Linked DNA regions of Homo sapiens: region 2 is linked to region 1. Evidence: fine-mapped expression QTL. A gene starts in region 1. The other region holds a variant in brackets. All regions are shown on one strand. Distances are from middle to middle.

Region 1 (5,376 bases):
AGTGTGAGACGAATTGAATTGAACTAGAGGACATCCAGCTGGCGTCCCCTGCAGCACTGATGGGTTGCTGGTGGGGATAAATCCACACATTTTGGTGACCAGAGGTGTTGTGTTGTATTGAGAGTAGAACATTTTAAAAAACAGATTTTGGCTTTTCCTTTATGGCCCAGATTGATAGCATCTCACCAACTGGCTCTTCCAAAGAGTTCAAGTCGGCCGGATGCGGTGGCTCACGCCTGTAATCCCAGCATTTTGGGAGGCTAAGGTGGGCAGATCACCTGAGGTCGGGAGTTCGAGACCAGCCTGACCAACATGGAGAAACCCCGTCTCTACTACAAATACAAAACTAGCTGGGTGTGGTGGTGCATGCCTGTAATCCCAACTACTCAGGAGGCTGAGGCACAAGAATCGCTCGAACTCGGGAGGCAGAGGTTACAGTGAGCCAAGATCGAGTCATTGCACTCCAGCCGGGGCAACAAGAGCGAAACCCCATCTCAAAAAAAAAAAAAAAAAAAAAAAAGAGTTCAAGTCCAGAATGTGCTGACAGCTAATAGCGAACTAAAAAAATACCCTTTGCACTATAGCCTTTACCCAGAAAAGAACTCTCAGAGCAGGTACTTTTGAATTGAACAGGGAACTCTATCATGACATTTTATAGAAGGAATTCCTTACCCTACCCATCTACACGTCTTTCCGAAGAAAAGTTGGAGCCTAGGTTCAAATTCTGTATTCACTATGTACTGGGTTCACATATCATATGTATGTGACCTTTTAAGCAAGTTAACTTCTTAGAGCTTGTTTTCTCCTTTAAAGAAATAAAGTATCTAATAGGATAAAATCAGCTGTAAATGAACTAATATATGTAAAGCACTTAGAACACTGCTTGCTGCAGAGCAATCCCTCAAACTATTCATATGTAAATATAACCATAGCCGTGGGTAGCTTACAAATTACTTTTTTTTTTTTTTTTTTTTTTTGAGATGGAGTCTCTGTTGCCCAGGCTGGAGTGCAGTAGCACGATCTCGGCTCACTGCAAGCTCCGCCTCCCAGGTTCACGCCATTCTCCTGCCTCAGCCTCCCGAGTAGCTGGGACTACAGGCGACCGCGACCACGCCTGGCTATTTTTTTTTTTTTTTTTTTTTTTGTATTTTTTAGTAGAGATGGGGTTTCACCGTATTAGCCAGGATGGTCTCAATCTCCTGACCTCATGATCCGCCCGCCTCGGCCTCCGAAAGTGCTGGGATTACAGGCGTGAGCCACCACGCCCGGCCACAAAAATTTAATTCAAAAGTTGGCTGGACAGAGCCAGAGGGCTCCTCACCCTGAGGCAGGCACTCCAGCGTGTTAAATCATAACGTTGAGGGTAATGGTGTTAAAATAGTCACGTTTGCCAGGTGCAGTGGCTTACACCTGTAATCCTAACACTTTGGGAGGCCAAGATGGGCAGATCACCTGAGCCCAGGAAAGAGTTCGAGACCAGTTTGGGCAACGTGATGAAACCCCACCTCTACAAAAATAAAAATAAAAATTAGCCAGGTGTGGTGATGCATGCCTGTAGTCCCAGCTACTCAGGAGGCTGAGGCAGGAAGATCGCTTGAGCCCAGAGGCTGTGGGTTAGCCGTGAACGCGCCACTGCACTCCAGCCTGGGAAAGAGAGCAAGACCCTGTCTCAAAAATAATAAAACTTCAGGCCGGGCGCGGTGGCTCACGCTTGTAATCCCAGCACTTTGGGAGGCCGAGGCGGGTGGATCTCAGGAGTTCGAGACCAGCCTGGCCAACATGGTGAAACCCCGTCTCTACTAAAAATACAAAAATTAGCCGTGCGTAGTGGCAGGAGCCTGTAATCCCAGCTACGCGGGAGGCTGAGACATGAGAATCGCTTGAGTCCAGGAGGTGAAGGTTGCAGTAAGCCGAGATCGCCCCGTTGCAATTCAGCCTGGGCGACAAAAGTTAAACTCCATCTTAAAAAAAAAAAAAAAAAAAAAGGCCGGGCACGGTGGCTCACTTCTGTAATCCCAACACCTTGGGAGGCCAAGGCGGGTGGATCACCTGAGGTCGGGAGTTCGAGACCAGCCTGACCAACATGAAGAAACCCCTCTACTAAACACACAAAATTAGCCGGGCGTGGTGGCGCATGCCTGCAATCCCAGCTACTCGGGAGGCTGAGGCAGGAGAATTGCTTGAACCCGGGAGGCGGACGTTGCGGTGAGCGGAGATCATGCCATTGCACTCCAGTCTGGGCAACAAGAGCGAAACTCCGTCTCCAAAAAACAAAACAAAACAACTAAATTTGAAGTGCAACAGTTTCTTCTCGTTTTTCCAGTTTTACAGAAAACCCAAAAGAAGGGCAGCTAAGGTGGATAATGATGCCTACCACGCACCCTAAGAGTAGGTAAAGGGGAAAAAATGAAATCCACGTGGGACTGCGAGTAGTTTTCGCCTTTTCCCGAAGACGCACACAATGCGCTTAGGTATACCTCGCGCAGAGGTCTCTGCAGAGAGGAAAGCCACCGTGAGAAGAGCGGGGAGCCCCCAGGCAAGAAGGCAGTGGCTTGTGTGTAGTGAACCGAAATGCGACACCAAGGAACTGCAACAGGATTCTCCTTTCCACTTGAAATGTGACTCCCAGCGAGACACCTACCCTTGACGCTCCCTGGACAGTGCGGCACGGTCGGGCCCACTAACCAAGGCAATTTGCGCCCGACCGAATCAGGTGCTTCAAAATCCCCCCTGGTGAGCCGCGCGTTAACCACACATAAAACAGTCAACGCAGAAGGAGCGAGAACGTTCGGCCGAAAAGCCCGGCACAGAGAAGGGAGGGGTGCTGAAAGCCGCGGACTGCAGCCGCTGGCCTGGCTGCCGCCCCGAAACAACGCCCACGCCCGGGAGAAGGGCAGGCTGGCGTCCAGGTAGGACTCCCTCAGGCCGCCCCGCCAGGGGCCGCGCCGAGCGGAGCGGCTGGACCCCAACCCTGCCGGCCGCCGCCGAGGTGCGCAGCCCGCAGCCCCACACCCACGGCCTTTGCAACACCCCAACCGTTGAACTGCGCCCCTACACGCCCGGCGTCTGCGGCTCCCAGGCCGGTGCCGATGACGTCAGACTTACGTCAGGCGTGACGCCACGGCTGGGAGGAGTGAGGACGGCGCGGGAGGGCGTTTCCGGAGCACGCGCCGGGCGGGGGCCGCTGACGTCGGGCTCAGGTGCGCGCGCCCGCCCGCACGGCCCAGTTGGCGGCGCGCACTCCAGGTGGCGGCCGGCTGCGGTGAGGGGACCGCCAGCGGCGAGCAGTCCCGGCGGCCCTGGGGTCTGCGGCCGGGGGCGCGGCGGGAGGGCGTCTGGGCCTGCGCTCACGTGACGGGCGGGGAGGTTTGTGTAGGGGCTGCGAGCCGGGTGGGCGCGGGCCCGGGAGCGCGAGGCTGACTGTCCGGCCCCACCCCTCGCGGGCCAGCCCTTCGCCGCGCGGAACCTTCCCTCGGGCAGGGGCCGGCCCCGCCGCTCACTTCCCGCGCCCGCTCGCCGCTGACCGGAGTTGTCTCCTCCTCCGCAGGGCCGCGGCCAGAGGGCTAGAATCCGCGCCTTCCGAGGGAGCCGCGCCCTGCGGGCCCCACCGTACCCGAGGGGATGGAGGGCTGCCCCCGAGGCCCCCGCGCGGCTCGCGGTCCCACGCCTGCCGGCCCGCGCTAGCTACTCGACTCGTGCGCTAAATTTATCCGTCACCCAGGCCTTGTCTCCCGAGTCATTGGCGTCGTGGTTCAAAAGAAATGGAAGAAAAGGAGCGATGTGACCGATTGTGTTCGGTCCTCCTGCTTTGAGGCCTGGCATTTGCAGAGGGAAACAGCAAGAAAATCGTGGGGATTTTGGAGGGGGGTGGGAGGGAAGGGTGGGGAAACGGAAACAAGGTCTTACATTTTATGTGTTTTTTTAAATTCTGCACTTTGACAGTGGTAGCAAAATAAAAGTAATCCAAAAGTTATTTTTCTATTGAGAAGAGAGAAGAGGTGGGTTTTATTTTTTTCCTTTTGATTCCAATCTTTTCTCCCAGTGACAAAGCATAAATCATGGACACCAGAGAATAAGGTGGACCTCAGGAATCCGGAAAAGACTGAGAAGCTTACATTCTTCCTCTAGAGGGAAGAGTGGGGTGTTTATAGCCATCTCTGGAACCTAAAACAAAAAACATGAGTTGTGTGCCATGGAAAGGAGACAAGGCCAAATCTGAATCATTGGAGCTGCCCCAGGCAGCACCCCCACAAATCTACCATGAGAAACAGCGCAGGGAGCTTTGTGCCCTCCACGCCCTCAATAACGTCTTCCAGGACAGCAATGCCTTCACCCGGGATACGCTGCAAGAGATTTTCCAGAGGTAGGGGACCCTTCTCCTTGGCATCTTGATACTGATATTTCTGGATTTCTGTGGGTGGGGCAGTGTCTCAGCTTCATAAACCTTCAAAGCTGTAGGTATTAGCTAGATTGCGTTAGCAGGTATAAGGGACACAAGACATGAAAAGATAATCACTACCATTTATCAGGCACTTACGGTGGGCTAGGAAAGTACTCATAGCCTCAGCTGTGTTTTCTTGAGTGATCTTCAACAGTCCCGTGGAATACGTGTTAATATGTGATGTTATTTCCATTTTACTGATGAAGACACATTTAGTTCAGTACCTCGCCCAAGATAACAAGACTTGGAGCTGGGGTTGAATTCTTATATCTATGCTGTTGACCACTATGCTATAATGCCTGTAAAGCTCTGCTGCCGAGGAGTTTACAGTCTAGAAGTGGGACTAGATACGTACACGTTCAGTCACCTGTCTTTAAAGGTGGAATGTGGTGGGTACCACAAGCAAGATGTATAAACAATGCTCAGCTTTTCTGTGAGGCCATGTGCTGGCAGTAGTGCTGTTCGTACATTGCTTTGTGAAGCTCTCCCAACAGTCATTTCACTGCCTGTATTATGCTGATAGGCAGAAAGGTCAGGTAATATGTCCAAATAGCTTCTAAATAGCAAAGCTATAATTTGAAGTTGACTCCAGATCTCTTCTTTCTCCTTTATTCTAGATGGCCTTTCTTACCCACTTAGAACAAATGCCACCCCACAGGTTAATAGAGGTTCAGGTTTTGGCCAAGTACGGTGTAATCCCAGCACTTTGGGAGGCCGAGGAGGGCAGATCACCTGAGTTCAGGAGTTTGAGACCAGCCTGTCCAACATGGTGGAACCCCGTGTCTACTAAAAATACAAAAATTAGCCCGGTGTGGTGGTGCACGCCTGTAGTCCCAGCTAGTCGGGAGGCTGAGGCAGGAGAATCGCATAAACTTGGGAAGTGGAGGTTGCAGTGAGCCAAGATTGCACCACTCTGCACTCCAGCCTGGGTGACG
Region 2 (5,376 bases), 220 kb after region 1:
TCAGCCTCCCAAGTAGCTGGTACTACAGGTATGTGCCACCATGTCCAGCTAATTTTTGTATTTTTTGTAGAGACAGGGTTTCACCATGTTGGCTGGTCTTGAACTGCTGACCTCAAGTGACCCTCCTGCCTTGATCTCCCAAAGTGCTGGGATTACGAGAGTGAGCCAGTGTGCCCCCGGTCATGGTTGCTTTTTTAATACTTTCAAAAATGCTTAGTAGTATATTAGGTTTCCAGTTTTCCATACGGAGAGGTCAGTCATTTTACACTGTTTAGTGGTGGGTAGAAACTGAGACATAGCAGTTGCATCTACAGTTGCAGAATATCCTAGGATCTGGGCTTCCTGACTCAAGGTTTCATATTGTAATACCGTGTTTCTTGATCATCCTCAAGTAAGGGGCCTAAAAGGGTGAAAAGGTCTAGTGTCCTTTAATTTTTACTGTGCTTTTGAATGTGCCCCATTAAAGAATCAAATTATGAGTATATTTTTACAGTACTAATTGGGAGGCTGGCCAGCATAACTAAATATCAAGGAGACATGTTTAATACTTTTGTACCCAGTAGAATTTTTACATTGTTATGTTTAGGTCCTATATCTGCCATTAAAAATCTTCTTGTATCTTCCCATTAGGTGGTCGTTCTCGTTACCGGACCACTTCTTCAGCCAACAATCCCAATCTGATGTATCAGGATGAGTGTGACCGAAGGCTTCGAGGAGTCAAGGATGGTGGCCGGAGAGACTCTGCAAGCTATCGGGATCGTAGTGAAACCGATAGAGCTGGTTATGCTAATGGCAGTGGCTATGGAAGTCCAAATTCTGCCTTTGGAGCACAAGCAGGCCAATACACCTATGGTCAAGGCACCTATGGGGCAGCTGCTTATGGCACCAGTAGCTATACAGCTCAAGAATATGGTGCTGGCACTTATGGAGCTAGTAGCACCACCTCAACTGGGAGAAGTTCACAGAGCTCTAGCCAGCAGTTTAGTGGGATAGGCCGGTCTGGGCAGCAGCCACAGCCACTGATGTCACAACAGTTTGCACAGCCTCCGGGAGCTACCAATATGATAGGTTACATGGGGCAGACTGCCTACCAATACCCTCCTCCTCCTCCCCCTCCTCCTCCTTCACGTAAATGAAACCACTCAAGTGGTAGTGACTCCAGCAGACTTAATTACATTTTAAGGAACACTGTCTTTCCTTTTTTTTTCCTCTTCGCCTTTTCTTTTTTTTTCCTTTTTTCTTTTTTTTTTTTTAATTTTTCCCCCCAACCATCGTGATTTGTCTTTTCATGCAGATTAGTTAGAATTCACTGCCAGGTTTCTTCTGCCCACCAAAATGATCCAGTCTGGAATAACATTTTGTAAAAAAAAAAAAAATATATATATATATATATAGCTGACTGGAAGAGATTAATTTCTTCCCCCAACTTCTTGCATGTTGAAGATATTTGAGCTATTTTTCATCTAAAAGAGTAAGGTATTAGGCCCTTTTGTGGGAGCCCCATGTTTTGTTTTTCTGAGTTGGTGGGGAGGGAGGGAGGGGGAGGGCTGAATTGTTTTGCAGAGGAAGATGGCATCTGTGCTTTAAATTTCTCATTACTGGGTTAGAAAACAAAGAGGGATTGCCCTGCACATTTTCTTTTGTGCTTTTAAATGTTTCTTAAGTTGGAACAGGTTTCCTCGGGCCTGTTTTGACTGATTGCTGGAGTGCATTTGATAGTTAAAAATTACTAATTGGTTTTATTTCCCTTCACACTCTGCCTCCCCACTTCTCCCCCCGTTACTGAAAAATAACCATTTTAGTGTCAGGCTAGAAATTGAATTGCTGAGTTTTGTGTATCCTTTAAATTAAAAACCACAAGTGTTTATTGTAGTGGTTAAACTGTAGCATCTCAGCATCTGGGTGGAAGCTGCCTATATTTCTTCCCAGTTTAACTGGGGACCATCTGTGAAATTAATTTTCCATCCAGACAGCTGCTGTGAGCAAATGAACATAAATGCTCGCTGGAAATTTACTAACCAGTTTTTATATTGACCTGCAGTGTAAAAAGCACATTTAATTATAAACAATATATTCAAAATGGGCAAATTTTATTTTCAAATGCAGTGTAGAGCTAGATTAAAAGCAACTCTTTGCCACCTACTCTGCCCTTTTGGCAAAGTTACCTTGAACAAAGAATCTTAAGGGTTTATTAAGAACTCTTTATTTTCTTCATACCCTGTTCTCTGCAGTGCTTTCTAACAGCTTCTGGGTGCAGATTTTCTTCGGCATCCTTTTGCACTCAGCTTATTACAGGTAGGTAGTGCTTAAGAAAAGTCATGGAGGACTAAAGCCTAAGTCCTTTTCACTTTTCCTCCATCTGAAGGTAGGTGAGTTCATCCTCTTCATGGTAATGCTGTTTTACCAAGACTTTATAGCAGATGGACCCAGAAAGAATTTTCTGCTATTGTGTTCACTACAACAGGATAGGGACATCAGACAGCCCCAGAAACCCCTTCCAGATCTGATATGGGACTATTAATTTTTATGCTGTTAATTGGTATTCATTCACAATGCAGTTGAAGGGGGAAGGCTCCACTGCATTCTTTGGCTAAGGCCTGAATGCTTGCTCATCTGTAAGATCTATACTCGAGGTTTTGTTTTCCTTTTAAAATTCTTTAGGGAGAGAGGGATGGTTTCTGAGGGGTTCTGAAAGTATGATTCAATGTGCAACATACAGGTAGGTCTTCAGCATAAGCTGAAATATATGCATGTAAAAACTTTGACATCTTTTTTTTTAATTTTCCACTTTCTTCTTAACTTTACTTCTCTTTTTGTCCCCCCCCCATCTTACAGAAGTTGAGGCCAAGGGAGAATGGTAGGCACAGAAGAAACATGGCAAACTGCTCTGTGCTTTCAAACCAAAGTGTTCCCCCCAACCCCAAATTTGTCTAAGCACTGGCCAGTCTGTTGTGGGCATTGTTTTCTACAACCAAATTCTGGGTTTTTTTCTTCTTTCTTTAAACATAGAGGTACCACCACAAGGGATGCCCTACTCTCTCGCAGCTCTTGAAAGCATCTGTTTGAGGGAAAGGTCTCTGGGCAAGCAAGTGGTTATTTGGATTGCTTGCTTCCCTTTTTCCACCTGGGACATTG[T/C]AATCATAAAATAACAGTAAATTCCAAACCTCAAAAACTATTATGGCCTGAGCACAGCTGAAATCTAGCAGAGTTTAACTCTTCTGCCTCCATGTCTGTCACTTATAATTCAGGTTCTGCTGTTGGCTTCAGAACATGAGCAGAAGAATCGTTTTATGCTAGTTATTGCATTCATGGTTGAAACTCAACTTAGGGAAAGGGTTCCAATGTATTAAGCAATGGGCTGCTTCTCCCCAATCCTCCCTAACAATTCGTTGTGTGGACTTCTCATCTAAAAGGTTAGTGGCTTTTGCTTGGGATCAGTGCTCTCTATTGATGTTCTTGCTGGTCTCCAGACACATTCCTGTTGCATTAAGACTTGAAAGACTTGTAGATGTGTGATGTTCAGGCACAGGATGCTGAAAGCTATGTTACTATTCTTAGTTTGTAAATTGTCCTTTTGATACCATCATCTTGTTTTCTTTTTGTAGGTATAAATAAAAACACTGTTGACAATAAGGTGTGAGCTTTTATTGCTTAATTCTCTGAATAATTCAACGTAGACGTCTTAAAACAGTTTTTGTTTCAAGACAAAGATGGGGGATATTGGATTGACTGATTACTTTCGCACCTAAAACTGAAAGGAAAAAACTTAATACAAGAATTGGAATTGAAAACCCTAGCAGGATACCTAGTAGGTAAGGGTTTGGATATATCTGTATCTGCTCATAAGTAAAACAGTGATTGTGCAAATGGTACTCGCCTAAGTACCATTAGGTTATTGGTATTAAGGTACTAAGTACAAGGCAGGTATCAGCCACTGGTTTGAAAAAATTCAAACCAGTAAAAGATGAGTCACAAAACTCCTCCAGCCAAACCTGGTAAATTTGGTTTGCTTCTGGCCTGAAGGCAGTGTGAAAGTGAAATAAGTTTCACACTTAAAACTAGCTGACACCTTTATATCTTGACCACCTAAATTTGGTCATCTACCTGGAAAGTGGAAATTCACAAGAACGTACCCTAATATTTTAACTGGTCTTTAGTTGGGACATTCTAAGAGGAGGGACATTGTTCCAGATTGGGGTTGACTTGCTCATCATGAGTCTTGCCCTCAGGCCTTGGAGAACAATCATTTATGTTTTTTATTTCGTCGGTAAGACACCTTAAGGTTTCTTGTTGCAGTGAGGCACCATCTTTGTGCAGGTGGCCGAGGTTTTTTATGACCTTACAATGGGTCTTTAAGGGCGATCTATTGATGAGAAGGTCTTCTGGGTGGGATGATCAGGTTTTGCTGAAATCCACACTAAACACTTTTCTGGTTTTAACATTTGATCCCAAATTATGGATAAGTTGCCAAAGAGAACATTCAAAATAGTTTCCTTCATGTGCTTGTTAAGGCGTAGACTGTCTCTGAAGGTCCTCAGATTGGCATTGGAAGACTTAACTTCTTTCCCTTAAGGACTGGAAGAAAATGGAGATGAAATAAGAATTTACCATCTGATGAAAGGACTGCTTTATAACTTGATGCATAATCTTGGTATCATCTCTTAATGGCCGGCTCACAGTATATGTTCGATTGTTAAAGCAAAGGGGGAGTCCATCTCCGGTTGACTATGGACCTACTGATCCCCGACTTGGTTACTGGCACCCTTCCCCCCAGCTGTAAACTTAGCGATTGGCCTCAAATTGTCTATTGTACATCTCATACAATCAAATCAGCAGTCCTTCTCAAGTCCTAGAACTTGTGTCCACATGTCTTTCTACCTAGAGCCTTTTTCCTGATCAACTGCAACTGCCCCATAGCTAGTCACTGTACTTGGACTGCTTTCTACCCTACATAGCAGCTAGTGGATTGGGTTTTTTAATGACCCAATACCTGCCCTTGGCAATCAGAATGTAGTGCAAGCCCCTTACCCTGGCCTACGAGGCGCTAGGTCAAGCTTGTCCAACCCGCGGCTCAGGATGGCTTTGTGGCCCAACACGAATTTGTAAACTTTCTTAAAACATATGAAGTGTCTTTTTGTTTGTTTTTGCTCATAAGCTATCAGTGTATTTTATGTGTGGCCCACGACAATTCTTCAGTGTGGGCCAGGGCAGCCAAAAGGTTGGACACCCCTGCCCTATGTGAACTGGTCTTGGTTGACTCATCTCCAGGTTTATAGATTTTGACCCCACTAGGCTTTTTGTCCATCACACCAAGCTGGTGGTTGCCTTGGGGCTTGTAATAAGTTCTGGAATGTTTTTCACTACTAACCAAGTATT

Evidence for each region. PIP is the estimated chance that this variant, and not a neighbour inherited with it, causes the effect.
Region 2: its variant is the best candidate, but not a certain one, in a credible set for the expression of JOSD1 in nasal epithelium (TOPMed, PIP 0.58).

Annotation. Positions count from the first base shown.
Region 1 is chr22:38,698,790-38,704,165 of GRCh38, reverse strand. It overlaps JOSD1 (Josephin domain containing 1), which reads left to right and starts at 3,223. Exons shown (of 5, transcript NM_001360236.2): 1 at 3,223-3,366; 2 at 3,548-4,363. The coding sequence starts at 4,179. RefSeq lists a silencer at 2,757-3,716.
Region 2 is chr22:38,481,695-38,487,070 of GRCh38, reverse strand. It overlaps KDELR3 (KDEL endoplasmic reticulum protein retention receptor 3), which reads right to left. Exons shown (of 5, transcript NM_006855.4): 5 at 3,624-4,575. The coding sequence ends at 4,535. It overlaps DDX17 (DEAD-box helicase 17), which reads left to right. Exons shown (of 13, transcript NM_006386.5): 13 at 631-3,633. The coding sequence ends at 1,136. Among named protein-coding and RNA genes, the nearest start is that of KDELR3, 16 kb to the right of the region's middle. The variant T/C (reference allele first, on the strand shown) is at 3,136.